7 linked regions of the Homo sapiens genome follow. The protein of the gene in region 3 purifies or fractionates together with the protein of the main gene of each other region. This does not show direct contact. Each region holds a gene or a part of one and is shown on either strand. Other genes may lie near its edges.

What was found.
Region 1: the proteins of CAPN12 (region 3) and SPATS2L purify together in Homo sapiens (affinity purification with mass spectrometry; one large-scale study listed by BioGRID and IntAct). This does not show direct contact.
Region 2: the proteins of CAPN12 (region 3) and DHX40 purify together in Homo sapiens (affinity purification with mass spectrometry; one large-scale study listed by BioGRID and IntAct). This does not show direct contact.
Region 4: the proteins of CAPN12 (region 3) and SPATS2 purify together in Homo sapiens (affinity purification with mass spectrometry; one large-scale study listed by BioGRID and IntAct). This does not show direct contact.
Region 5: the proteins of CAPN12 (region 3) and KIF2A purify together in Homo sapiens (affinity purification with mass spectrometry; one large-scale study listed by BioGRID and IntAct). This does not show direct contact.
Region 6: the proteins of CAPN12 (region 3) and ORC3 purify together in Homo sapiens (affinity purification with mass spectrometry; one large-scale study listed by BioGRID and IntAct). This does not show direct contact.
Region 7: the proteins of CAPN12 (region 3) and PPIL4 purify together in Homo sapiens (affinity purification with mass spectrometry; one large-scale study listed by BioGRID and IntAct). This does not show direct contact.

Annotation. Positions count from the first base shown.
Region 1 is NC_000002.12:200,305,383-200,309,492, reverse strand, and holds the start of SPATS2L (SPATS2-like protein), read right to left. Parts: upstream 2,801-4,110; 5' UTR 2,571-2,800; intron 607-2,570; exon of another isoform or gene 421-606; coding exon of another isoform or gene 403-420; intron 1-402.
Region 2 is NC_000017.11:59,579,110-59,582,609, reverse strand, and holds part of DHX40 (probable ATP-dependent RNA helicase DHX40), read right to left. Parts: intron 3,139-3,500; coding exon 3,052-3,138; intron 2,914-3,051; coding exon 2,731-2,913; intron 1-2,730. UniProt on the Homo sapiens protein: Probable ATP-dependent RNA helicase.
Region 3 is NC_000019.10:38,741,675-38,745,849, forward strand, and holds the start of CAPN12 (calpain-12), read right to left. Parts: upstream 2,801-4,175; 5' UTR 2,492-2,800; coding exon 2,255-2,491; intron 1,460-2,254; coding exon of another isoform or gene 1,429-1,459; coding exon 1,359-1,428; intron 855-1,358; coding exon 736-854; intron 237-735; coding exon 103-236; intron 1-102. UniProt on the Homo sapiens protein: Calcium-regulated non-lysosomal thiol-protease.
Region 4 is NC_000012.12:49,489,462-49,492,961, reverse strand, and holds part of SPATS2 (spermatogenesis-associated serine-rich protein 2), read right to left. Parts: intron 3,498-3,500; coding exon 3,389-3,497; intron 2,281-3,388; coding exon 2,231-2,280; intron 1-2,230.
Region 5 is NC_000005.10:62,358,206-62,361,705, reverse strand, and holds part of KIF2A (kinesin-like protein KIF2A), read right to left. Parts: coding exon 3,407-3,500; intron 465-3,406; coding exon 374-464; intron 241-373; coding exon 177-240; intron 1-176. UniProt on the Homo sapiens protein: Plus end-directed microtubule-dependent motor required for normal brain development. May regulate microtubule dynamics during axonal growth. Required for normal progression through mitosis. Required for normal congress of chromosomes at the metaphase plate.
Region 6 is NC_000006.12:87,665,543-87,667,951, reverse strand, and holds the end of ORC3 (origin recognition complex subunit 3), read right to left. Parts: intron 2,199-2,409; coding exon 2,119-2,198; intron 942-2,118; coding exon of another isoform or gene 935-941; coding exon 829-934; 3' UTR 501-828; downstream 1-500. UniProt on the Homo sapiens protein: Component of the origin recognition complex (ORC) that binds origins of replication. DNA-binding is ATP-dependent. The specific DNA sequences that define origins of replication have not been identified yet.
Region 7 is NC_000006.12:149,532,544-149,536,043, reverse strand, and holds part of PPIL4 (peptidyl-prolyl cis-trans isomerase-like 4), read left to right. Parts: intron 1-305; coding exon 306-448; intron 449-1,269; coding exon 1,270-1,366; intron 1,367-2,469; coding exon 2,470-2,586; intron 2,587-3,500. UniProt on the Homo sapiens protein: PPIases accelerate the folding of proteins. It catalyzes the cis-trans isomerization of proline imidic peptide bonds in oligopeptides.

The sequences.
Region 1 (4,110 bases), on a different chromosome or scaffold from region 3:
AATGACAGTAAAAGTGCTACAGAAGATGGCTAGGAAAGAAGTACTATGAAGCAGTGACTAAGCAGTACCTGTCAAGTGCACATAAAATGCATTCCACTCTTGTCATACAGTGGGACAGGTAGTAGCAGCTTAGATCTTACGAAGAGCAACCACAACTTTTTCCATCCTATCCAAACTGTAACCAGAAGTTCTTGTCCTGGCTCACCTCAGAAAATGCTGATTAAAACTGTGTAAAGTAATAGAATGAAGACCACCTATGCCCTTTCAACACACAACCATTCACGAACATTCACTGTGATTGATAACACAACTCTGATCGCAGACTGAGAAACTCACAAAAATTAGGCCCCAAAGTGAGATATTTCTAAAGCTTAACTTCTGATGTAAAAGCTTACCACTTACATGGCAAAACGGGTCCATAAAATGCTTCAGACTGGCATGCAATCAAAGACTGCAACGGTGTGGCCTAAGTATTTTCTTTCCCTGATCCTTACTGGTGTGGCAGAGCAGCTTCTCAAGCCCACAGATAACTCTCTCCACAATGGCCTCAGGAAAATCAGTGCATGCAGAAAAACTATTTACTGAAGACTTTCATTAGGGGGCTCCCTAAAACAAAATGAATACAAAAGGAGTCTTGATCATTTTGCCTGTCTAAATGAGCACATTAAACTAAGTTGATTCTTAGAAAATCATTTAATATTTTCAGGGATTAAAGAAAGAAAATTGCCAATTAATACAGTCTTTTCCCAGATGTTCAGTTTTTACTAACGTCTTTAGCTATTCTCTGCATTCAAGTGATTGTATTTTTATGCAAATTATCTTTTGGGGCTAGTCTCTAGTTTGTGTGTCTGTGTGTGTGTGTGTGTGTATTTAAAGCCACACAGATACAGAATTTGACATGTTTTCTGCCACACAGATACAGATTTGACATGTTTTCTGTTCTGCTGCTCCATACAATAGGTTTTAACACAGCTTGAGCTTATTCCAAAACTCTAATTAGAAACTGCAGTATTTGCCTTGTCCAAATAGAAACCCATTCCCAAAGTTGATTTTTCCCCAGTTAAAATTCAACAAAGAATATCATACACAGATATTTTTAAACACGACAGTTACTAGATAAAACTGCCCTATCTAACAACACATTGCTTTCTGGTTAAGCAACACAATTTCATAAGGCCTATCAAATACTTTATCCAGACGGCCACTCTATTTTCAGGGTATTGGTTGTATTATTTGAAGTCTTTTTTTTTTTTCAGAGTGAAGAGATTTCTGACTTCCTGTCCTCTTCCCTGCTATATTACATACATCTGCTTAAACTCTGGAAAACAGTACCAGTCAAAGTGGTGCTGAAACCTTCCTTTAAGACAAACTAAAACGATGTTAAAAAGGTTACACGACCTTACTATTTCAAGTACTGGTATAAAACCACTTTCTCTGCACAGGTTCTAAAATTTCACAGTCGTTTGTCTTAAAGTCTGTCGGCTTGTGAGGGGGCTGGTACATATTTTAATATTTAAATTTCAAAAAATAAGCAATGAGACTGTGTTTGAAGTTCAAGGGTTTTCACTAGTTCTCAAGCTACAAACCCTGTAATATAGCCAAAAGAAAACGTACAGAAAGAATCTTTCACGAAAAGTGTCAGGTCTCCAAAACCCCGACATCTGCTAAAACCAGGATTGCGGGGGGGATGAGAAGCTCGTGAAGTTCAAAAACACACCAACCCCGCGGGAACACGAAACCTCCACTCGCGAAGACGCGACGCTTCCGCCGCATCCCCGCGCAGGTGAAGACTCGGCCCTTCAGCCCCGCGTGTGCGGCAGCATGATATTCAGAGTGCGCCGGCGTCCAGCGCGAGCGCATCCTACGACAACCCCGTCTCCCGCTGGGGTCCGCAGCCCGCGGACTCCGGGGTCCCCCCGCCCAAATGCGGCGGCGCGACCGCTTCGTCCCGCGGCCAGGGCGCTCCGCGTCTGCTCCGGCCACCCCAGCCCACCCGCGCAGCGCGGACGCCAACGCATCCCACTCCCGCTGGGCGCCAGGGGCGCGGGGTTCAGTGGGGCCGCGGCCCCCGCACCCGGCTGGGATCCGAGGGCGGGGTGGTCGCGGCTGACGTGGGCTTTGCGGCTCCGGGCCAGAGAGCAGCCTGGGGGACGGTGGGTCTCTTTCCGGCTTGGGAGGGAACGGGGGCGCCCGCGCGGGAGGACGGCAGGCGAGGGACGGCGGCCGCGGGCGATTCAGATCCGGGGCGGGCGGGTACACGTCGGAGCGCGGCGGCCACACGCTCGCCCGGGGAGCGCCACTGTGCGTCCCAGCCGGCGCCTCCTCCCGCTTGCCCGCGCCGGCTGGAGAAAGGAAGGACGGCGACCTTCGCGTCCGGTCCGCGCCACCAGCCCGCCTCGGCGCCGAGCGCGGGCCACACCCAGCGCTCCGGGAGGCGGCGGAGGCTGGGCGGCCCGGGCTGCGGAATGCTCGGCCCAGCCGAGTCTCCGTCCCGGCCGCGCAGGCCCCTCCGCGTCCGCCCGCGCCCTGCATCCCCAGCCGGCCCGGCGTGGAGGGGGTCCTGGGCTTACCTCTGTGTCGAGCGCCGGCTCCTCCGTCCCGGGCCGGAGCCGGGGCCCGGGGGCGCGGTCGCCAGGGGAGGCGCCGCGGCGGTGGCGGCCCCTGCGGCTCGGAGGGCGGGCCGAGCGGGAGCCGCTGCCTGGGCCGCGCGCCGTCCGGAGCTCGCCCCGCGCTGCCGGCGCTTGCAGCGGAGGGCGCAGCCAGCTCGGCCCCCGGACTGGATTCCTTCACTGACACAACTCCGGCTCGGCCGCCCCACGCAGGGACACTCCCGCCCCTCGCAGGCTGCCCCCGCCCGCCGACCCGCCCGCCTTCCCCTCGGTGTCACTCACCAGGAGCACACACCCCAGCCGGCGCCCCTCGCTCCCGCTCGCAAACACAGCGCTGCTCACGCCTCTCTCGGGTTTTGTATCCGCTCACACGCACGTTCTGACACAGATCTCGTCCCTCCACACGCCCTCCCTAGCTCCTTTCCCACCCCACTTTCTAGAAGAATCCCAGTACAGCTTCCGCACTTTGCTTGCTTGCTCCAGACCGACTTCCTCGCCTTTCCCCAAACCTCCACTTCACCGAAACTCCCCTTGTTAATGAAAGATTTTGTCACAATCCGCACGTGTTGCAAGAGAATCATCTTCTCCTACCCGAGAAAATGAACTTTGCTCCCTCAGCACTGTCTGCAAATACGAGATGTTTTTCCTTTTAGAAGGTAGTAATGCTTTCTGGAGAGGATCCAAGCTCAAAATGTAAGCAAAGATAGCCCATTCGAAAATGACCTGAAAAATCAGGCGCGGAAAAAGTGCTGGAGCTCGGGTCAGCCCTTGGAAACCCGACCAACCCGGGGTGTTCCGCCGCCTCCTCTGCGCTGCGGGTCTGCACACTGGGCTCCAAACGTGTGTGTAATAACCAAGTTACACATGGGCATCGTGGGCTTCAGCCGTGGGTTTCTGCCTGGGAGTACAGTAGTCGGGAGAGTAAAAGCAGTTTCTCAATCATTATTCATGATGGAAGCACTTTAGATAACACTCTTCTTCCAGAGGCAGTAGAGTGAAATGCAGGCAGCTCTCCAATTCAGGTTTTTATTTATTTATTTATTTATTTATTTATTTAGAAGGGTGACTTCTTAGCTTCCTTTTTTTTTTTTTTTTTTGGCAATACCAATAACTGTTTCTGAGTGGCTCCTTGGCTGTCAAGCTCCTTACAAATATCAGACCAGAGTTTGTTATGCTTCTCGAGCTCCAGACTCTAATGGGCCTCCGAGGGCACTGCAGAATCGTACATAATCCGATGTTCAGGAATTCATAATTTGAAATAAAATACAAACACCTTTCGGATAAAGTTCAAATCTGCTAACATAATGTGGCCCTGTTGACAACGCACTGCTGAAATAAAGAGAGGAGCTAAAACGAAAGGAATTCATTTTCTTATGTGACTTGGAGTGGTTCTTGCTACCTTATAGTCGCCTTGGATTGGTGTGTGGATAATATAATTTATTTAACAGACATTAGCAAGTGCTTTATAAGTACTAGCTCATTTAATCCTTGGAAGAACCCC
Region 2 (3,500 bases), on a different chromosome or scaffold from region 3:
GACGCTAAATCTGCAAGTTCTTTTAACACCACGGAAATAATGTCTAAATGCTCAAGACAAAATCACTTATGGTGGTAGGTTTTCCCTCATTATTTCCTTCCACCTTAGTCATCAATTCCTTCTTATTCAGACCTGTTCTTGCATTTTCAGCTTTAAAATTATTCTTCCTGATGGAAAAGAAAGGGAAAGCAAAATAATAATTGAGAAGATCCATTTTCTTTCTGTCGTCTATGAATCCTATACCATCTACCCCAAACACTGGCTCTACCTCTCCTTATTCTTTATACAACTTTTTAAAAAGGAAGTCTTTGTTTTTTGTTTCAAGCATTTTGAAACATAATTTTGCGATTTTTAGTACACTATGGCTTTTAAGACTTAAGATGGAAAAATAATTCAATGCAGATGATATTAATTATTGTTCCTATTTTTCTAATATATACTCATTCTTGGTTAGAGGCTGCTCTGCTATCCTTTGTGAATATACTAAGAGTCAATGTCAAACTTACTGAGCAGCTATTTCCAAAAATGGCCCTTTTTCCCCAAATGAAAAAAATCAAGACATTATTTTAATATCTGGGTTCATCTGAAAGTTTTCTATTGGGCTCTTTGGATTTCTTTAAATGGCGCTTTCCTTCTTTTCATTGGTATAATTTATTGCTACAGTCAGAATTTCATTTATTACATGCTTTTCTCTTTCCAGTATCTACATATTCTCATTCAGAAAATCTCTAATCTAATGATAACTATCAAAACATTTTGAAATTGGCAAATTGGCTTTCCAAGAGTATACAATGAGTATTTGTGGGTTTTGGGGTTTTTTTTTGCTTTTTTTGGTTTTTTTTTTTTTTTGGAGACAGAGTTTCGCTCTTGTTGCCCAGGCTGGAGTGCGATGGCGCAATCTCGGCTCACTGCAACCTCTGCCTCCCGGGTTCAAGTAATTCTCCTGCCTCAGGCTTTCAAGTAGCTGGGATCACAGACGAGCACCACCATCCTGGCTAATTTTGTATTTTTAATAGAGACAGGGTTACACCATGTTGGCCAGGTTGACCTCAGGTGATCCACCCGTCTCGGCCTCCCAAAGTGCTGGGATTACAGGCGTGAGCCACCGCACCCGGCCTACAATACATATTTGGATGCACCTAATAATCACTTACTATGAATTTAAAAACTGCACGGTTACCATCCCCCAAAATTCCTGAGCAGTTTTACATTCCAAGGCAATTAAGACCAAAATAAAGAAGATAGTACTTTCCTCCATTAATTCCCCTACCATGTATGATAGAAATTTCTATCTATAACAATATTCTATCTTATACCAATAAATTATATTAATATTTGGCTAATTTAACTGTTCTTCCTTTATTTCACGTGTCTGAACCTTGTTTTCCTAATATAACTTAAGCTTAGTGAAAGCAAAAAACTACAGAGTATTACTCTGTCTTTCATGGTATATAGTATGATGCTGGCCATACAAAAAAAACACTCCACTTTCCAACTGTATACCCTTTTGTTTTGTTTTGTTTTTTTTGAGACAGAATCTCGCTCTGTTGACCAGGCTGGAGTGCAGTGGTGTGATCTTGGCACGTTGCAGTCTCTGCCTCCTGGGTTCAAGTGATTCTCGTGCTTCAGCCTCCGGAGTAGCTGGGACTACAATCACGTGCCACCAAGCTCAGCTAATTTTTATATTTTCAGTAGCTACGGGGTTTTGCCAGGATGGCCAGGCGGGTCTCAAACTCCTGGCCTCAAGGGATCCGCCCACTTTGGCCTCCCAAAGTGCTAGGATTACAGACGTGAGCCACCACGCCCAGCCCCCTTCTTTTGAAACAGGGTCTCACTCTGTTGCCCAGGCTGGACCGCAGTGGTGCAATCATGGCTCACTGCAGCCTCTACCTGCCCGGCTCCAGCAATCTTCCCGTCTCAGCCTCCAAATATCTGGGACTCAAGCATGCACCATATCAGACTTTTTTTTTTTTTTAATTGTAGAGACAAGGTCTCACTATGTTGCCCAGGCTTGTCTCGAAATCCTAGGCTCAAGCAACCCTCCCACCTTGGCCATCCAAAGTGCTGAGATTACAGGCATAAGCTGTTATGCCCAGCTCATTATATACCTTTCATTACAAATAAACAGTGGTCACTAAGTGATCCACATAAACATCAGCACAACCCCCTAACCCCGCCATTAAGCCAAGGTTAAACATGAGCAAGAGATCCTACTAAAGCAATGCAAGGAAGTCTTCTGTGTTAGTTTAGTTGAAAAGCAACCAATAGAGCCAGGCACAGTGGCTCACACCTGTAATCCCAGCATTTTGGGAGGCCGAGGTGGGTGGATCGCCTGAGGTCAGGAGTTCGAGACCAGCCTGACCAACAAGGTGAAACTCCATCTCTACTAAAAATACAAAAATTAGCTGGGCATGGTGGCAGGTACCTGTAGTCCCAGCTACTCGGGAGGCTGAGACAGGAGAATTGCTTGAACCCGGGAGGCGGAGGTTGCAGTGAGCCGTGATCGTGCCACTGCTCTCCAGCCTGGGCAACGGAACAAGACTCCATCTCAAAAAAAAAAAAAAAAAAAAAAAAAGAAAAGAAAAGCAACCAATATAAAAACCAACCTGTAAAAGAGGTTAGCCTCAACTCTCAGGGATGTATCAGTCAAATATTTCAAAATAATTTTTGAGCCAATAACTTGGTTCCAGGCTAACAAGTTTTTCCTTTTTTTTCTAGTTGTCTACATACCTTATGACATCGTGTATGGCAAGGCACTTTAAGGTCAGAACTACAGATGTCAAACTAGTTCTCTTAATTTCAGGGATCACATGGTCAGGCATACACTGGTTCCAAAAATCTTTACTATAGATCCGAAAGCATTTTCCTGAAGAAGTCCTGCCAGCTCGGCCACTTCGCTGTAATGCCTCGCTCCTACAAAAGGAAAAAAACCCAAAAATTCCCCAAAATGTTCTGTGGGTTTCTCAGGTAATTTACTTTGTCTCCCCAAAACAGCTAGAAATTACCTAATCAGTTGTTCTTTGAATAAAAAGATTTGACATAGAGACTTACTTTGAAATTGGAACCACCTCCAGGATGTCCAACCCTAATCTGGGGTTGTGATTTAACTGCTTCACGAAGCCACCATCTACCACATATCTAAGAAGAATCAAAGCAAGTTAAGTTTCTGGAAAATAAAAGAAGACTTGTTAATTGTTAACCACTTTGGTTTCTCCTTTTCTAGCAAACTAGCAGGTACACAATGCCTTTTATGTTAAGTGTAAAACTTGAAAGTCAAGAAATTGGAACCCTCGTATGTTGTTGGTGGGAATGTAAAATGGTTCAGCCGAGGTGGAAAATTGTTCGGAGGTCCTCAAGAAGTTAAACACAAAATTACCATATGATCCAGCAATTCCATTTCTAAGTGTACACCAAAAAGAACTGAGAACAAGTACTCAAACAAATACTTATAGACCAATGTTCATATCAGCACTATGAATCACAGCCATAAGGTAAAAACA
Region 3 (4,175 bases):
TGTTTGGAGGATTGCAGAGCTTGGGGGACTCTGGGTCCCCCTGTGGCTTGATGCCTGCTGTGGGGACTTAGGGCTGCAGCTGGTTGGAACTGGGGTCCTCACTTGGCGTAGGCCTTCTCCAGGAGTGGGGCCCAGAACTCATTCCGCTGTTCCGAGCGCACGAACATCAGCTTCCCCTCACGCACGGGCAGCCTGTCATCCACCACGACGTCCATCCAGCGGCCAAACTGCCAGAGCTGGTGGGAGAAGATGCAGGGCCGGACTCGGCTTCCAACCTCCAACCCTGCCTGGGCCCTGCCTCTGCTGTGCCAGTCCCAGAGTCAGGAATTACAGCCCCAAGTCAACGTTAACTATGAAATCCATATGGCTGGCCGGGTGCGGTGGCTCACATCTGTAATCCCAGCACTTTGGGAGGCCGAGGCGGATGGATCACGAGGTCAGGAATTCGAGACCAGCCTGGCTAAGATGGTGAAATACCATCTCTACTAAAAATAAGAAAAAATTAGCTGGGCATGATGGCGGGTGCCTGTAATCCCAGCTACTCAGGAGGCTGAGGCAGAGAATTGCTTGAACCTGGGGGCGGGGCGAAGGTTGCAGTGAGCCGAGATTGTGCCACTGCACTCCAGCCTGGATGACAGAGTGAGATTCCATCTCAAAAAAAAAAAAAAAGAAAAATCCATATCACCAAGTCACCATGGGGGAAACGGAGGCATGGGCAGAGGAACTGAGCTGTACCTGGAAGTGGAAGACGCCTGCGTAGCCATGCTGGAAATCCTGTCCAGGAGGGACCACCCGGCGCAGGAGCCGGGGATACAGAGTAAGGGAGGCGGCAGCTGCAAGGAACCAGCAGTTACCTGGGAGGAGAGGCCAGGATTAGGTGAGGATGGAAGGAGGGAGGCCTGGTGCGGTGGCTCATGCCTCTAATCCCAGCACTTTGGGAGGCCAAGGCAGAAAGATCACGTGAGCCTAGGAGTTCAAGACCAGCCTGGCCAACATGGCAAGACTCCACTACAAGAAAATTTAAAAATTAGCTGGGCATGGTGGCATGCACCTGTAGTCCCAGCTACTTGGGAGGCTGAGGCAGGAAGATTGCTTGAGTCCAGGAGGTTAAGGCTGCAGTGAGCTATGATGGTGCCACTGTATTCCAGAATGGGTGACAGAGTGAGACCCCATCTCAAAAAAAAAAAAAAAAAAAAAAGGAAGGAAGGAAGGAGGGAGGAGGGAGAGAGAGGCCTAGGGAGAGAAGAGACTGAGGAGGGATCCAGGGGCCGGGAGTGGGTGGACAAAGGGATGGAGCTGTCAGGATCTCAGCTGAAACTAGCTGGATCTGAGGACTCCAGGTGGGTTCAGGGTCTCACCCAGGCTCCCCTGACACACGTCTGTGCGGCTCATGTCTTCACAGATGAACTTCGGCTCAGCACAGAACTCCTGTGGGTGGTGGGGGATTCCAGGCCTCAGCCTGAGAAAGCGAGGAAAGGTCTCATCCAGAGGAGTGAGGGCCTCCAAGCCCATGAAAGGCCTGGAAGCCTGTGGGCAGGAGCATGGCTTCCCTGGGTCTCCAGAAGTTGTGCTGAGCCAGTCCCATGGTAGCCCCCTCCTCCCTCAGACCCGGGAGTCCAGGCCCAGCCCCTCCTCCCTCAGACCCAGGAGTCCATGTCCCGAGCCCCTCCTCCCTCAGACCCAGGAGTCCAGGCCCAGCCCCTCCTCCCTCAGACCCAGGAGTCCAGGTCCCGAGCCCCTCCTCCCTCAGACCCAGGAGTCCAGGCCCAGCCCCTCCTCCCTCAGACCCAGGAGTCCAGGTCCCGAGCCCCTCCTCCCTCAGACCCAAGAATCCAGGTCCCCAGCCCCTCCTCCCTCAGACCCAGGAGTCCAGGTCCAGCCCCTCCTCCCTCAGACCCCGGAGTCCAGGTCCCCAGCCCCCTCTTCCCTCAGACCCAGGTGTCCAGGCCTTGGCCTCTCCTCCCTCAGATCCAGAAGTCCAGGTCCAAGCCCCCTCCTCCCTCAGACCCAGGAGTCCAGGTCCCCAGCCCCTCCTCCCTCAGACCCAAGAGTCCAGGCCCAGCCCTTCCTCCCTCAGACCCAGGAGTCCAGGCCCAGCCCCTCCTCCCTCAGACCTAAGAGTCCAGGTCTCGAGCCCCTCCTCCCTCAGACCAGGGAGTCCAGGCCCCCAGCCTTCCTTCCTCAGACCCAGGAGTCCATGCCTCCAGCCCCTCCTCCCTCAGACCCCAGAGCCCAGACCCCAGCCACACTTTACATGGGGCCTCATCCATTTCACGCCTTTGGCCTTCTCCGAGTCCGGCCCCAGCTGGTCATAGCCAAGGGCATCAGGGCCAGCAGGGAAGTAAGGGTCGCGGAACAGGATCCCCGAATCCAGGCAGGCTGCCCGAATTGCCTCATAGCTCTGGCCCCGAAAAAGCTGCAGGCGCCCGGCTCCGACCCCAGCCTCCTCATCCACGAGCTGGATGGTGACCCTCCCACTGCTGGATGCCATCTGGACACTGGCCTCACAAGCCGGCACCAGGCCCTTTAACCTCCTGAGTCACGGGGGCGGGGCCTCTCTTCCATTGGAGCCCCAGTGGGGTCTTTAGGCAATGAGGAGCCTTCCCTCGTTAATATTAATTGATGGTTTGGGGTGCTGGGGAGCAGGGACGCCTCTTCAGTAGCTTTCTTCCCAGGGCGTGGGGCCTTCAGTTGTGGCCAAGGTAGCAGCTTAATGGGCTTGGCCAGCAGCAGGAGAGAAGGCGGGCAGAGCTGAGGGAGGACCGGCTGCCGCTGTCAGAGCACCAAGAAGGAGGTCAGTGTGGGGGTGAGCTTCTGCCTACTTATGCCTGTGGGGCTGGGGAAGGAGGCGGGTTTACCTCGGTGTCTCTATCTCTCAGACTGCCTCTCTCCCCCTCCCTCTGACAGTTTCTCTCTCCCCGCCTTCATGTTTCTTCTCCATCAGTTTCTGGAGTGCAGTGGCACGATCTCAGCTCACTGCAACCTCCGCCTTCTAGGTTCAAGTGATTCTCCTGCCTCAGCCTCCCAAGTAGCTGGGATTACAGGCTCGTGTCACCATGCCCAGCTAATTTTTGTATTTTTTGTTAGAGAAGGGATTTTACCATGTTGACCAGGCTGGTCTTGAACTCCTGGCCTCAAGCAATCCGCCCACCTTGGCCTCCCAAAGTGCTGGGATTACAGACGTGAGCCACTGTGCCTGGTCAGGTTTTGTTAATTAAAAAAAATTTTTTTTAAAGTAGAGACAGAGGGGTGGCGGGGGGCGGTCCCATATGTTCCCCAGGCTGGTCTTGAACTGCTGGCCTCAAGTGATCCTCCTGCTTCAGCAGCCTCCCAGAGAGCTGGGATTACAGATGTGAGCTACTGTGCCTGGCCCTTTCTTGTTTTTTGTTTCTGGCAATATTTGTGTCTCTGTATTTCCCCAACTCCACCCCTCTCCCCACCCCACCCTCTTTTTTTTTTTTTTTTTTTTTTTGTAGAGATGGGGCGGGGATCTCACTTTGTTGCCCAGACTGGTCTCGAACTCCTGGGCTCAAGTGATCCTCCCCGCTTGGCCTCCCAAAGTGTTGGGATTACAGGCGTGAATCACTATGCCTGTCCCCTCTCTCTTTGTGTCTCTTTCAGCGTGTGTCTGTTCCTCTCTGTACCTGTCAGACCCAGGAGTCCAGGCCCCCAGCCCCTCCTCCTTCAGACCCTGTCAGTGTACCTTGTGTCTGCCTCCCTGTCTCTTCCTCTCCATCTTTCTGTCTGTCCCTGTAACCCATATGTGGCTCCTCCATCATCCACCGAGGGACCCTGAGCTCCCCTCCGCTCACGCCCCCTAAGCCCTCAGGATGCGCCTCCTCCCCTCCCGGACAAGGTAGACTCAGCCTGCTTGCCCAGGGAGGCTGACCCTGGAGGGATGGCTCTGTACCTCTCCTGTGCTGGGAGCCATCTGGTGACCATGATGCCCTGCCCTGGCCCACGCCACTCAGAGTCTGGATGGAGCAGTATTTCCCCCAAAGGACTCTGGAGCCATTGGAGGAAATGGGAGAAACAGGTACGGAGATGCCAGAGCCTCAGCAGTGCTGGTCCCAGCAGACCTTCCACCCTCGTTGAGGGTGTCTGCTGCCCTCCCAGAGCCTTGTCACCTCCACGCCACTCAGATGTCCCTCAAGCCTTTTGGCCTTCTTCCCTCC
Region 4 (3,500 bases), on a different chromosome or scaffold from region 3:
CACACCCAGCTAATTTTTTTGTATTTTTAGTAGAGATAGGGTTTCACCATGTTGGCCAGGCTGGTCTCAATCCCCTGACCTCCAGTGATCCACCTGCCTCGACCTCCCAAAATGCTGGAATTACAGGCATGAACCACCGTGCCCGGCCTCATCTTTCTTTTTCTTACTTTCCCCCATGTGAACTGGCTAAGTTTTCATATCATTGGGTCATGTATATCATAACTATCCCACTCAGAGTCACATCCTATTGGACTAATCCCAACAGTTAAGTGGACTGGACTGGATTTGTGCATTTGGGACTGCTAAACTGAAGTCATATTTCTTTCTCCAAATTTTAAGGAATGTCTGTGTCTCTAACACACATCCTCTTCCAGGTCCATGCACATCTTATATCACTAGTAACTTATAATCCTGGGCTAATAAATTAAGAAACTGGTGTTAGCTGGGTGCAGTGGCTCATGCCTGTAATTCCAGCACTTTGGGAGGCCAAGGTGCGCAGATCACTTGGGGTCAGGCGTTCGACACCAGCCTAGCCAACATGGTGAAACCCTGTCTCTACTAAAAAATACAAATATTAGCCAGGCGCAGTGGCACGCACCTGTAGTCCCGCCCTACGTAGGAGGCTGAGGCATGAGAATTACTTGAACCCAGGAGGCGGAGGCTGCAGTGAGCCGAGATCGCGCCACGGCACTCCAGCCTGGGCGACAGAGCAAAACTCCATCTCAAAAAGAAAAAAAAAAAAGAAAAAAGAAAAAAAAGAAACTGGTGTTTTCCAGGACACTCACAGTTATCTATGTAACAGGTTGAAAGCAGCAGGAAGAAGTTAAACAAATATTCAAAACTACAGGTATGAAGAGCTTCAGAAGAATCTGTGTAGTATTAGGTAACCCTTGGAAAAAATTCTCAAGCGTCACTGAGGCCAAGCCTGGTTTTTGTTCAAGACCTGACAGGACTCCTAAAAAGTGATGTAAGAGTCATGATGAAAGCATTTCAGAACTCCAGCACTGACTTAATAAAGAAAAGAACACCCCAAACAGATTTCACAGAGATACTTGATTAAAATCCATACTTCAAGCATTTCCTAAAGGGGTTACCTTTACAGTGCAGAGCTGTGGGAAGAATTTTGAGACCAGCTGGTATCCTTTGGGAAAAGCATCTGATTTTAAGTAAATAAGGAGAAAGGAACGAGAACTAATATGTTAGGCGTTGTATTATGTATTTGTATTTATTAGAACTATTTTTCTATTTTAGAGATGAGCAAACTAAGGCACAAATGTTAAGCAATATCAGTCACAATGCCAGTAGATAGTGGAACAGGGTAGGAATCCAGTTCTGACTGATCCCATAGCCTGAGTGCTTTCTACCTCTCAAAGTGGAACATCAGACCCCTCTGCAAGGCACCTAATAGCCTTTTTTTTGAGATCAGGTTTCATCATGTTGCCCAGACTTGAACTCCTGGGCGCAAGTGATCCTCCCACCTCAGCCTCCCAAAGTGCTGGGATTACAGGCATGAGTCACCGTGCCTGGCCAGCACCTAACAGCTTTATGTCAAAGCTCATTAATATCAGGACTACAACCCAGTTGCCCGACCAAAAATCTGAACTGTTTTAACTGATTTATGGTATGAATATGGTTGAAAACCACTCAATTAGATCGCTTTCTCTTGCTTTCCTTGATTTGCTGTCTTTTTCACCCGTCTAATAACTGCACCATGGCAAAGTCATTCTGTTTCCTGCCTTAAATCACACGGAGAGGACTGTGTGGTACTCTGTGAGACACAGCTATGTTTCAAGGTCGAAGAATTTTTTTTTTTTTTTTGAGATGGAGTCTCACTCTGTCACCCAGGCTGGAATGCAGTGGCCCAATCTCGGCTCACTGCAACCTCTGCCTCTTGGGTTCAAGTTATTCTCCTGCCTCACCCTCCTGAGTAACTGGGATTACAGGCACGTGCCACCACACCTGGCTAATTTTTTCTATTTTTTAGTAGAGACGGGACTTCACCATGTTGGCCGGGCTAGTCTTGAACCACTGACCTCAAGTGATCCACCTGCCTTGGCCTCCTAAAGTGCTGGGATTACAGGTGTGAGCCCCTGCACCTGGCCAAAGATGTTTTTTAACCAGGTAAACAGAAGATATGTATGTGAACCTTTTCTTTCAAATATTTTTGCAGAGCCTAAATTTTTAAAAATAATATACACATCATCATGCTTTTAAATGTAATTCATTTTACCTTTTTCTTGCCTGTTACTGTCCATTCTTTGAGTACTTCACTGGCACTACCTGTAAGAGAAACCAATTACAGATTTTGTCTCCTACCACACACACAGTAGTCAAGCAGGAGTCAGTGTCCTCCCATTTTGTAATTGCTGGAGAATTTACAAAGCTCCTAACAGAAAAGTTAAAGTTAAGGATCAGGTCTAAAGTAATGTAATGAGATAATCATGCCATGCTTCCCTTTTGGAATACCTGCCTACTTAGACCCCTCCTCTCCGAGTAATTTCCTCAGTAAGTTCTTCTAAGAAGAGACTAATGTAGCTGGGCCATTTTGAAGATTCTCTTATCCATACATCTTAGACCAAATACAAAGGGGATGGCACACTGGTTTTAGCCAAGTGTGCCATCCTTTCCCCTCCAGTTACACACCCACCTTGGCTATGTTGTTTTGGAGACAGCTGCACATTACCCTAGACCAAAACACTAACATTATTTTTTAAAAAGATGAAGATAAAGAAAAACTTTACAACATTCAAACTTGTGCATCCTATGTTGGCAGATTCAGGAAAATAAAAACAGGGAGACCTAACCTCATGTTGCTATTCAAAGACGCAATAGCTTCAGATAGTTTTTCTCCAACAGGTTACATGGAAGGAAGGTTCATAAAACACTTCTCAATGTTATAAATCTGAAGGGTTGACTAAGCCTGCCATTCTTCTACGTATTAGATAAGGAAATTCAAACCCACACATTTGAGTCACTTGCCACAGCCAAACTAACGATATTAGAATCCGGAAGACAATACTGAGTCCTTGAATTTGCCATCTGTTGGTGAGCCACTGAATCACTGCTTTGTTATTAAGAGTCTCTTAAATTCTTATTCAACCCAAGTCCAATCAAGTCCCTTATACCACTGGCCACATGATTTCCTCTTAAATACCATTAGAGAACATTTAGCGTGAAACAATGGAGTTTTCTCAGCTTATCTCTTATTATAGACACCACATAGCTTATTTCAGCTGAAAGAGGTATCGTCAAATGTCATGGTATGTTATGTTTTCATGGGGTCTGCTCTATCATCTATGAATCACTGGATTGCTGAATGTTATAAAAGTCTGAAGCAAATTCTATTTGAGCAAATATAAATTTATTTTTAAAATTAAGTCAGGATTACCTTCCATGAATGCTTGTACTGTTTTGTCCACACAGTTATCAAAGTGCTGCAAAACCAGGATAATTTCATTGTTGCTCTTATTAGGAACTATTGCACGTACCGCATTTATCTG
Region 5 (3,500 bases), on a different chromosome or scaffold from region 3:
ATTGTGAATATATAATCTTATAGTTCTTTTCAAGCAATCTAATAACCTATAATTGACATAATAGACAGTTAATATAGCATTATAGTTGCTGAACAATATTTTAAAGCCTTATTTCAAAGTTACCTGAATAATACCACAGAAGAATATTCCAAATTTTATGGAAAAAGGACAGTTACCTGCTAATGCATAAATTCCTTTAGAACAATCTTGGTTCTTTCCTGAAAAGTCACCACCCATAGTCTATATTTTAAAAAGAAAATAAAGAACAGACATTACTCAGGAATAACTCTTAAGAATTTAGTTCACAGAATTAAGCTATAAGGAAAAGAAACTGTAGCTTCGTACCAGAATGTAACTTTAATAAATTACTTACATGAGTTTTTCCACTTCCAGTCTGCCCATAAGCAAAGCATGTAGCCATTCCCCTTTCAAATATAGTTTCCACTAGTGGTCTAGCAGTAAACCTTAAAAATAAAATGCATCAGTCAGAATGTGTCACCAATATTTTGATGAATAATAGTAATGCTGAGTAATACAAAGTATTTTATTAATAAATAAAACTTAATAGCAAGATTCTAAACAAATCTTTGTTAAAAATTTTAAATAACAATATCGAAGAATTGATTTAAGAATTTTAAATATCATATGCTAAAATTACTTAAACTACTTAAAGCATAATTTCAAGCAATATTTCCATAATAAATAATGGTCACAATAAGGCATATACAATAAAAACAAACACAAAGTATTATAATTTCAACAGAAACAGAATAAACAAGAGTGGTAATCTCAATTTTAAAAAGTTAATAGAGGAAAAAAACTGCAAAAATATTATCTATAGACCATCTAAATAAATAGAAAAATGTTGATTACCTTGAATTTAGACAAGTAATTTATACTTAAGCAAAAAGAATATAAATTGTGCTTGTAGGAAAATGAATTCTATTAGTAAGTTGACACTCTCAATTTAGGAAAAGGATACCTAAATATTATGGTTTGAATTACATTTTTTTTTTTTTGAGACGAAGTCTCGTTCTCGTCCCCCAGGCTGGAGTGCAAATGGCGCGATCTCAGCTCACTGCAACCTCCGCCTCCCGGGTTCAAGTGATTCTCCTGCCTCAGCCTCCCGAGTAGCTGGGATTACAGGCACCTGCCACCACACCCAGCTAATTTCTGTATTTTTAGTAGAGACGTGGTTTCACCACGTTGGTCAGGCTGGTCTCAAACTCCTGACCACAGGCGATCTGCCCGCCTTGGCCTCCCAAAGTGCTGGGATTACAGGCATGAGCCACCGCACCCGGCCTTGAATTATATTTCAAATGTATTGGTATAACCCACTGCTAGAGTTAAAATAAAAAGGTGGGAAGGTATAAGAAGTACTTTTCCCCTGAGCAGTACACTAAAAAGTATGATGGAGGCCAGGCGTGGTGGCTCATGCCTGTAATCCCAACACTTTGGGAGGCTGAGGTGGGTGGATCACTTGAGGTCAGGAGTTCGAGACCGGCCTGACCAACATGGTGAAACCCCGTCTCTACTAAAAATACAAAATTAGCTGAACGTGGTGGCACACGCCTGTAATCCCAGCTACTCAGGAGGCTGAGGCAGGAGAATCGCTTGAACTGGGAGGCAGAGGTTGCAGTGAGCCGAGATCATGCCACTGCACTCCAGCCTGGGCGACAAGAGCAAAACTCAGCCTCAAAAAAACAAAAAAAAAAAAAGATGGAAAACAGATCTACAAGTAGAACATTTTATATAACTGCTGTCTTTGTTTTGTTTTGTAAAAGGCAAAACTGAAGAAAGTACAGAACAAAAGGAGCAGGAAAAAGTTCTGGTCAAACAGAACTAGGGATGAGCCTGCTAAGTAGATCAAACCCCTACCTCCCAACCCTACCCACAAAAAAACATGTAACTCCTCAATCCATAATAGTTAAGTATAAGAGATAGAGGAGAAGGATAAATATTGATAAAGTTAAGAAACATAAACATAGGGTAAAAACACAATGTTTACTAAATCATACACACAGAAACATGCCTGTATTTGTAATAATTTCTTAAAAACTATTATAAAAGTCAAACTTATATTTTATGAGGCAGGAGTAGAAAGAGGGAATGAAAAGGAAAAGTGGACTCTTCAGAAAGCTAAAAAAAAATTCTACAATTAACAATTATGATTCCCCTTTAAACATATTCTTCACAAATATCTCTATCTAGTATTCATATGTCCTTTAATTTGATCCTTTTTTTTTTTACAACTGACTACCCAGTACACTTGGTGAAGACAAAAAGAGTTGGTCTCAAAAGTATTTCCTTTGTAACACCTTCAATTCTTAGTCTCATTAACTCTAATTTTTTCCTTTCTAGGCATTTTTATGAAAAAGGGCAATCAGATATAGTATTCAAGCAATTACAAAGACAGTAATATTCCTAGATAAACCAAAATAACAATACTGCTAAAACTGGTGTTATAATTATTAGAAATGAATGTTTGCAAACTTACGTATGAAAATCTAAATCTGGCATAAAAATTTGAGATACCAATGTATAACACAGATAAATTTGAATTATTTTTAAGTTGAATACAGAAAACATACAAGAATCTCATGTACTAAAACTATCTCCAAGCTTAAAGATGACAAATTTAAATACAAGTACGGAACTTTTTCGCCTTAAGTGACAATACATACTAAATACAGATTTAGATAAATTAATAATTAACTGATAACAGGTATTTTGGCCAGGCATAACAGTGGCTCATGCCTGTAATCCCAGCACTTTGGGAAGCCAAGGCGGGCAGATCACTTGAGCTCAGGAGTCTGAGGTTAGCCTGGGCAACATGGCGAAACCTCAACTCTACAAAAAGTACAAAAATTAGCTGGGTGTGGTGGTGCATGCCTGTGGTCCCAGCTACTCAGGAGGCTGAGATGGGAGGATCACCTGAGCCTGGAAGGTCGAGGCTGCAGTGAGCTGTGATCGTGCCACTGCACTCCAGCCTGGGCAACAGAGCAAGACCATGCCTCAAACAAACATTTCAAGTTTCTTTATTAGTACAGAGATTAAAAGGTAAAAATTAAAAGTCTTCTTATCATATCCTATTCCTAGAGGTAATGTTAACATTTTCCCGAAATTTCTTATCCATATACATGGTTTGTGTGATATGTATATATATGTATATATATGTGTAATAAGCTAATTAGCAAATAGTAATGGAAACTATGATTTTGGGGAGCATTACAGAGAACAAGTGTTAATATTCATTACAGCATTTATTACATTCTCTTTGTTTAAACTCAGAATAAAACAGCATATTGCACCTCTTAAGAAATATCCCACAATCAATGTAAATTTCAAGGTGCTGATGACCACATGGCATAAGAACAAAATTCTGATTTAAAATGAATTTACCTACCTGTAAACCATTTCATTAGGAGCTGAGTCATCAAAGGCATAATCAAAACGAAATGTTTGGTTTTCTAGGTACCTTGTTAAATCTACTTTTTGTT
Region 6 (2,409 bases), on a different chromosome or scaffold from region 3:
AAACAGTTTGGGACTTTTTTTTTTGACACGGAGTCTCACTCTGTCACCCAGGCTGGAGTGCAGTGGCCGATCTCAGTTCACTGCAACCTCCGCCTCCCGGGTTCGAGCAATTCCCCTGCCTCAGGCTCCCGAGTAGCTGGGACTACAGGCATGTGCCACCACACCTGGCTAATTTTTTGTATTTCTTAGGAGAGATGGGGTTTCACCTTGTTGGCCAGGATGGTCTCGATCTCCTGCCCTTGTGATCCACCCGCCTTGGCCTCTCAAAGTGCTGGGATTACAGGTGTGAGCCACCACGCCTGGCCTTTTTTTTTTTTCTTTAAAGTTGTAAGACTACAGGAAATGGAGAGGCAGAGACAGTTTTGGAACCTATGTAGTCACCAGGAGAAACAACCTGTAAGATATTCATGTTACTTACTGCCTACTACACTAAAGTGAGGAATGCCAATGCAGGGAATTGGGAGAGGAGGAATGAGGATTGCTAAAGCAACTGCAAATAATTTATACTCCTGGATAACGGAATTTATTACATTTACATACTCTAAGTTCAAGAATGATTTACTCACAATTTAGTAATGACTTTGGAAAGTACAGTAAAATGTGTGAGCAGTTTTAGTTACATTATTATTTGTTGGAGTCTAAAGTACTCCACAGGTGTTTTGATACATGCCTGTTTGGGGTTAGCAATGTACTTTTCTGGTTAAACATCAATGGGGGTTACACATTTATCTTCTCAACAAAACAGGCTCCTCTAATATATGTAAATATGACTGGTCACCTTTTTCTCTTAAGCTAAATGTGATAGTTCTGGCTTTGCTTATTTGCTTTCTAGCAGCCTCCCCATGTTAGTCTTGCCACATGGTCAGTCTTCTGTTTGGTAGGTTTTATAAATCCTAAAAGTTCTAGTTCAGAAACAGCTCTAATAAACCGAGCACTGGAGGCTTTAATTAAGGAAACTGGCCGTGCTGTATTTTTGACAAAAAGGGATTAAAATCTCAATGTTAAAATACTAGTTGGTAAAATGAAGTAGATAGTTCAGATATAAACTCCTAAATTAAACTATAACTGTTACTGGAAAACATTAATTAGAATCCACTATCAATAAAACATAAATGGAAAAGTACTTAATGCTTCCTAAATCTAATGTTCTACATAGTATGGAAATTGCTCCCCGCCCCCACTTCTAAACGTACATTAGAAAAATAGAGAATTCAGACCAGGTCAGTGGCTCACACCTGTAATCCCAGCACTTTGGGAGGCCGAGGCAGGCAGATCACCTAAGGTCAGGAGTTCAAGACCAGCCTGGCCAACATGGTGAAATCCCATCTCCCCTAAAAATACAAAAATTAGCCAGGCATGGTGGCAGGCGCCTGTAATCCCAGCTATTTGGGAAGCTGAGGCAGGAGAATCGCTTGAACCCGGGAGGTGGAGGTTGCGGTGAGCCGAGATCGTGCCACTGCACTCCAGCTTGGGCAACAATAGCAAAACTCTGTCTCAAAAAAAAAAAAAAAAAAAAGAATTAGGCCGGGTGAGGTGGCTCACACCTATAATCCTAGCACTTTGGGAGGCCAAGGCGGGCGGATCACAAGGTCAGGAGTTCGAGACCAGCCTGGCCAACATGGTGAAACCCCGTCTCTACTAAAAATACAAAAATTAGCTGGGCTTGGTGGCAGGCACCTGTAATCCCAGCTACTTGGGAGGCTGAGGCAGGAGAATTGCTTGAACCCAGGAGGCGGACGTTGCAGTCAGCCAAGATCGCACTACTGCACTCCAGCTTGGGCGATAGACGAGACTCCGTCTCAAAAACAAACAAACAAACAAAAAAAACAAAAACCAAAAAAAGAGAATTCAATAATGGCAGTTTCATTTTTGGTAAATTTTAAAATATAATCTTGATATAAATTTGATACCAAAAGTTTTAGGTTTGGTCTCATTTTGGATTAAATTCAAAATAAAGATTCAGAAATTTCAGTTATTCTAGCACCATATGGTTAATATTAACAAGTAATACGGTTGTTTGGAGTACGCCTTTATAAATATCTAGTGTAGACCTGGAGAAATTATAAACTTATATTTTATGTGTAGTTGGACATTGTAGAAATGGTTTTAAAAGGATACTGGATAATTTCATTCATTTCTTCTGAGGTTGCAGAATTTGCATCCATTTTTTCAGCAGCTGTCACAACTGTTGCAAAAGCCTTTTGAATAGACAAGACAGAAGAAAATAAAAATGTCTACAGTTGCCAAACATCTTTTACTATACTTCTTTTAATGGCTGTTGATAGCTGGCACATATTCTTCATTATATCAAATTTAAGATTGTCAAAACTACACTGATGATCACTTTAAACCACTTATATATTAAAAGATAAAGTAATGGTTCCTGAATAATCTTGTTTCAGAGAACTA
Region 7 (3,500 bases), on a different chromosome or scaffold from region 3:
AAAATGTGAGCCAGAAACATGAAGTGAGCCTATGCTGTTGGGAAAATGGCACCAATAGACTTACTCAATACACGGTTGCCAGAAATCCTTAATTGTAAAAAATGCAGTATCTGCAAAGTGCAATAAAATGAGGTATGCCAGTATAAGCTTTGTACTTTTTACTTAGTTTTGGTAACAAGTGTCTAAGAATTGGTGCAGTAAATGTGGACTCTTAACTTTCATGTATTTTTTTGTCAGTCTGTAACTGATTTCAGTTTGAGTTATGTATTATTTTTATGGTATTTATTATGTGTCCTTCTTTATAGTTTCTTATCACCACAGGAGAAAATCTAGATTATCTTGATGGTGTCCATACGGTGTTTGGTGAGGTGACAGAAGGCATGGACATAATTAAGAAAATTAATGAGACCTTTGTTGACAAGGACTTTGTACCATATCAGGATATCAGGTATGGTTACAATTTGCTATCTGAATGTACTAGAATGTTTTAATATTGAGATGTTTAACACGTAGTGGTATGGATAGGAACGGTATGCATAGGACTGGTTTCTGGATAATTCTAATCCCAAAAGGTGAATTAATATAAGACTGTAAGAATCTTTATAATAAAAAGGACTTTTTGTATTTTTATACTTGTACTAATTATTTATAATTATGTTTGGAGGAATTATTTATTTATTTATTTTTTGAGACGGAGTCTCATGCTGTTGCCCAGGCTGGAGTGCAGTGGCGCGATCTTGGCTCACTGCAAGCTCTGTCTCCCGGGTTCACACCATTCTCCTGCCTTAGCCTCCCAAGTAGCTAGGACTACAGGCGCCCGCCACCACACCTGGCTAATTTTTTGTATTTTTAGTAGAGACGGGGTTTCACCATGTTAGCCAGGATGGTCACGATCTCCTGACCTCATGATCCACCCACCTCAGCCTCCTGAAGTGTTGGGATTACAGGAATGAGCCACTGCACCCAGCTGGAGGAATTGTTAATGCTTTAATTTAGTTTTTTAATTGAGAAGTAGGGCAAAAGTACTAAGATTTAGACAGTTATATTAGTTTACATCTTAAAGTAATGCAGGGTGATAAATATGGTATCACTCAATGCAAAACAGTAACACTCATTGTGAAAGTATATCTAGGTTAGTAATATCCATATGCAATATGGGTTTTTTTTGGCCTTAGAGATAATCAAGTAATTTTTTGTAATCTATTAAAATAAAATAGGATTCTGAAATAACTTCAATGTATAACATTTGATTTGGATTTATTTTGTAAGGATAAATCATACGGTGATTTTAGATGATCCATTTGATGACCCTCCTGATTTATTAATCCCTGATCGATCACCAGAACCTACAAGGGAACAATTAGATGTAAGTAAAGCCCTCTTATGATTAAATGTACATTCATATTAATGATTTGTATGGATTTATCTTTTTCATCTGTTAAAGTTAATTTTTTCCGAATTATTATCTTGCTTAATTATATTCAACAAGTTTGGAGTTCTTTTTCTTTTCCACAGAGGTACTCATTTTTCTAGCTGTCTTCTCATTTCTCTAATTTCCTTTCTTCAGTTTCTTTTCTACTGAGACAACCTCAGCTCTAGAAGCTTACATGAACACCTTGGGAAAGTGTTTTTCTTGTCATCAAATTAAACTGTTATCTTGTGAGGTAACTTTTCAACTGGGGACACTCTGGAGCCAGGCTAGAACCCAGAAATTTCTGTGAAACAGCGCAGACTGTTCCCCCACATATTTTAAGGTTTATGTGGCTTCCTGAAAGCTGAATTTGTCTTTATGGTTGGGATTGGTGCTTAATTGTCAGATCATTTCTCTTCATTCAGCAGTTAGAATTGGATAATAAATAGTGTCCATATAAATATTTATTTATTTTTTTGAGATGGAGTCTCACTTTGTTGCCTAGGCTGGAGTGCGTGGTGGGATCTCGGCTCATTGTGGCCTCTGCCTTCCTCATTCAAGCAATTCTCGTGCCTCAGCCTCTTGAGTTGCTGGGATTGTAGGTGCATGCCACCACGCCCAGCTAATTTTTGTATTTTTAGTAGAGACAGGGTTTCACTGTGTTGGCCAGGCTGGTCTCGAACTCCTGACCTCAAGTGATCCACCTGCGTGTTCTCCCAAAGTGCTGGGATTACAGGCACGAGCCACCATGCCTGGCCTATTTTGATTTTAACAGAAGCCCACTTTGGCTAATATTTTAGAATTAATATAAATCAATTCTTGGAGGTTTATAAGTTTGTCTCAGTTGCTGTCCAATTAATTATTAAAAATTTTTTTTTAGAGACAAGATCTCACTGTGTCACCCAGCTGGAGTGCAGTGGTGTGATTGTAGCTCACTGCAACCTTGATCAGTTACTGTTTTAGCATGTTTGATATAACTAAGAATAAAGTATGTCTTCTATGTTTCTCAGATTTTTTTATTCTTTAAATATATACATGAGTAACTTCTGTCTTAACAGAGTGGTCGAATAGGAGCAGATGAAGAAATTGATGATTTCAAAGGAAGATCAGCTGAGGAAGTAGAAGAAATAAAGGCAGAAAAAGAGGCTAAAACTCAGGCTATACTTTTGGAGATGGTAAGATAATTATCTTTGTTCAAATTGTTCTGTAATATATCTAATAATACTTACTGAGTGTTTATTTCTGGCTCTTCAGTAGTCTTAAAATGTTAAAAATTGAGTTATGATTTTTTTCTGATTTAAATTTGGTATGGCATAGTAATAAATTGGCTCTACTGTGAAAATAAATTTGACTCTACTGTCAATATAGTGCTAAGTGCCTTTTTAAACAGTGGGAAGTGGATCTCTAACTTATTAATTGAATTTCAGTTGTTTAATATTCATCTCATTCTTAAAGAGTGTTTAGCAGGCTGAATTTTATGTATATTAAAGAATAGTTCTTCACTGTACCACTCAAGTGTTAAGATTAAACAGAATGGTAGTTGTAGGGCAAAATAATGGGTGGAAACTGAGCACTCTAAAATATACTGCTTCTCTGTATTACTAACAACCTGAAGTCATTTGGGGAATAATAATTCAGTAGATGATTAATTGACCTACTTGGTATTATTTTCCATTTCTTATTTTTGTAGAATAGGCATACCTGTCATATCATAGATAATAAATATTGGAATGAATGGATAATAAAGTTACTATTTTATATAATAGAACTTTCAGATTTGTAGTCTGTTTTAAAGTTTATTTATTTATTATTTTATAGAGACAGGGTCTCACTCTGTTGTTCAGGCTGGAGTACAGTGGTGTATGATCATAGCTTGCTGCAGCTTCCAACTCCTCAGCTTAAGCAATGCCCTTGCCTCAGCCTCCTGAGTTGCTGAGACCACAGTCACACACCACAATGCCCTGCTAATTTTAAAATTTTTTTTGTAGAGACAGGATCTCCCTATGTTGGCCAGGCTTAAGTTTATATTACCATCAACTGTCTGAATGAACAAATAGTAAAGGCTGTATAGTTCAAGAAAGCTTTACTG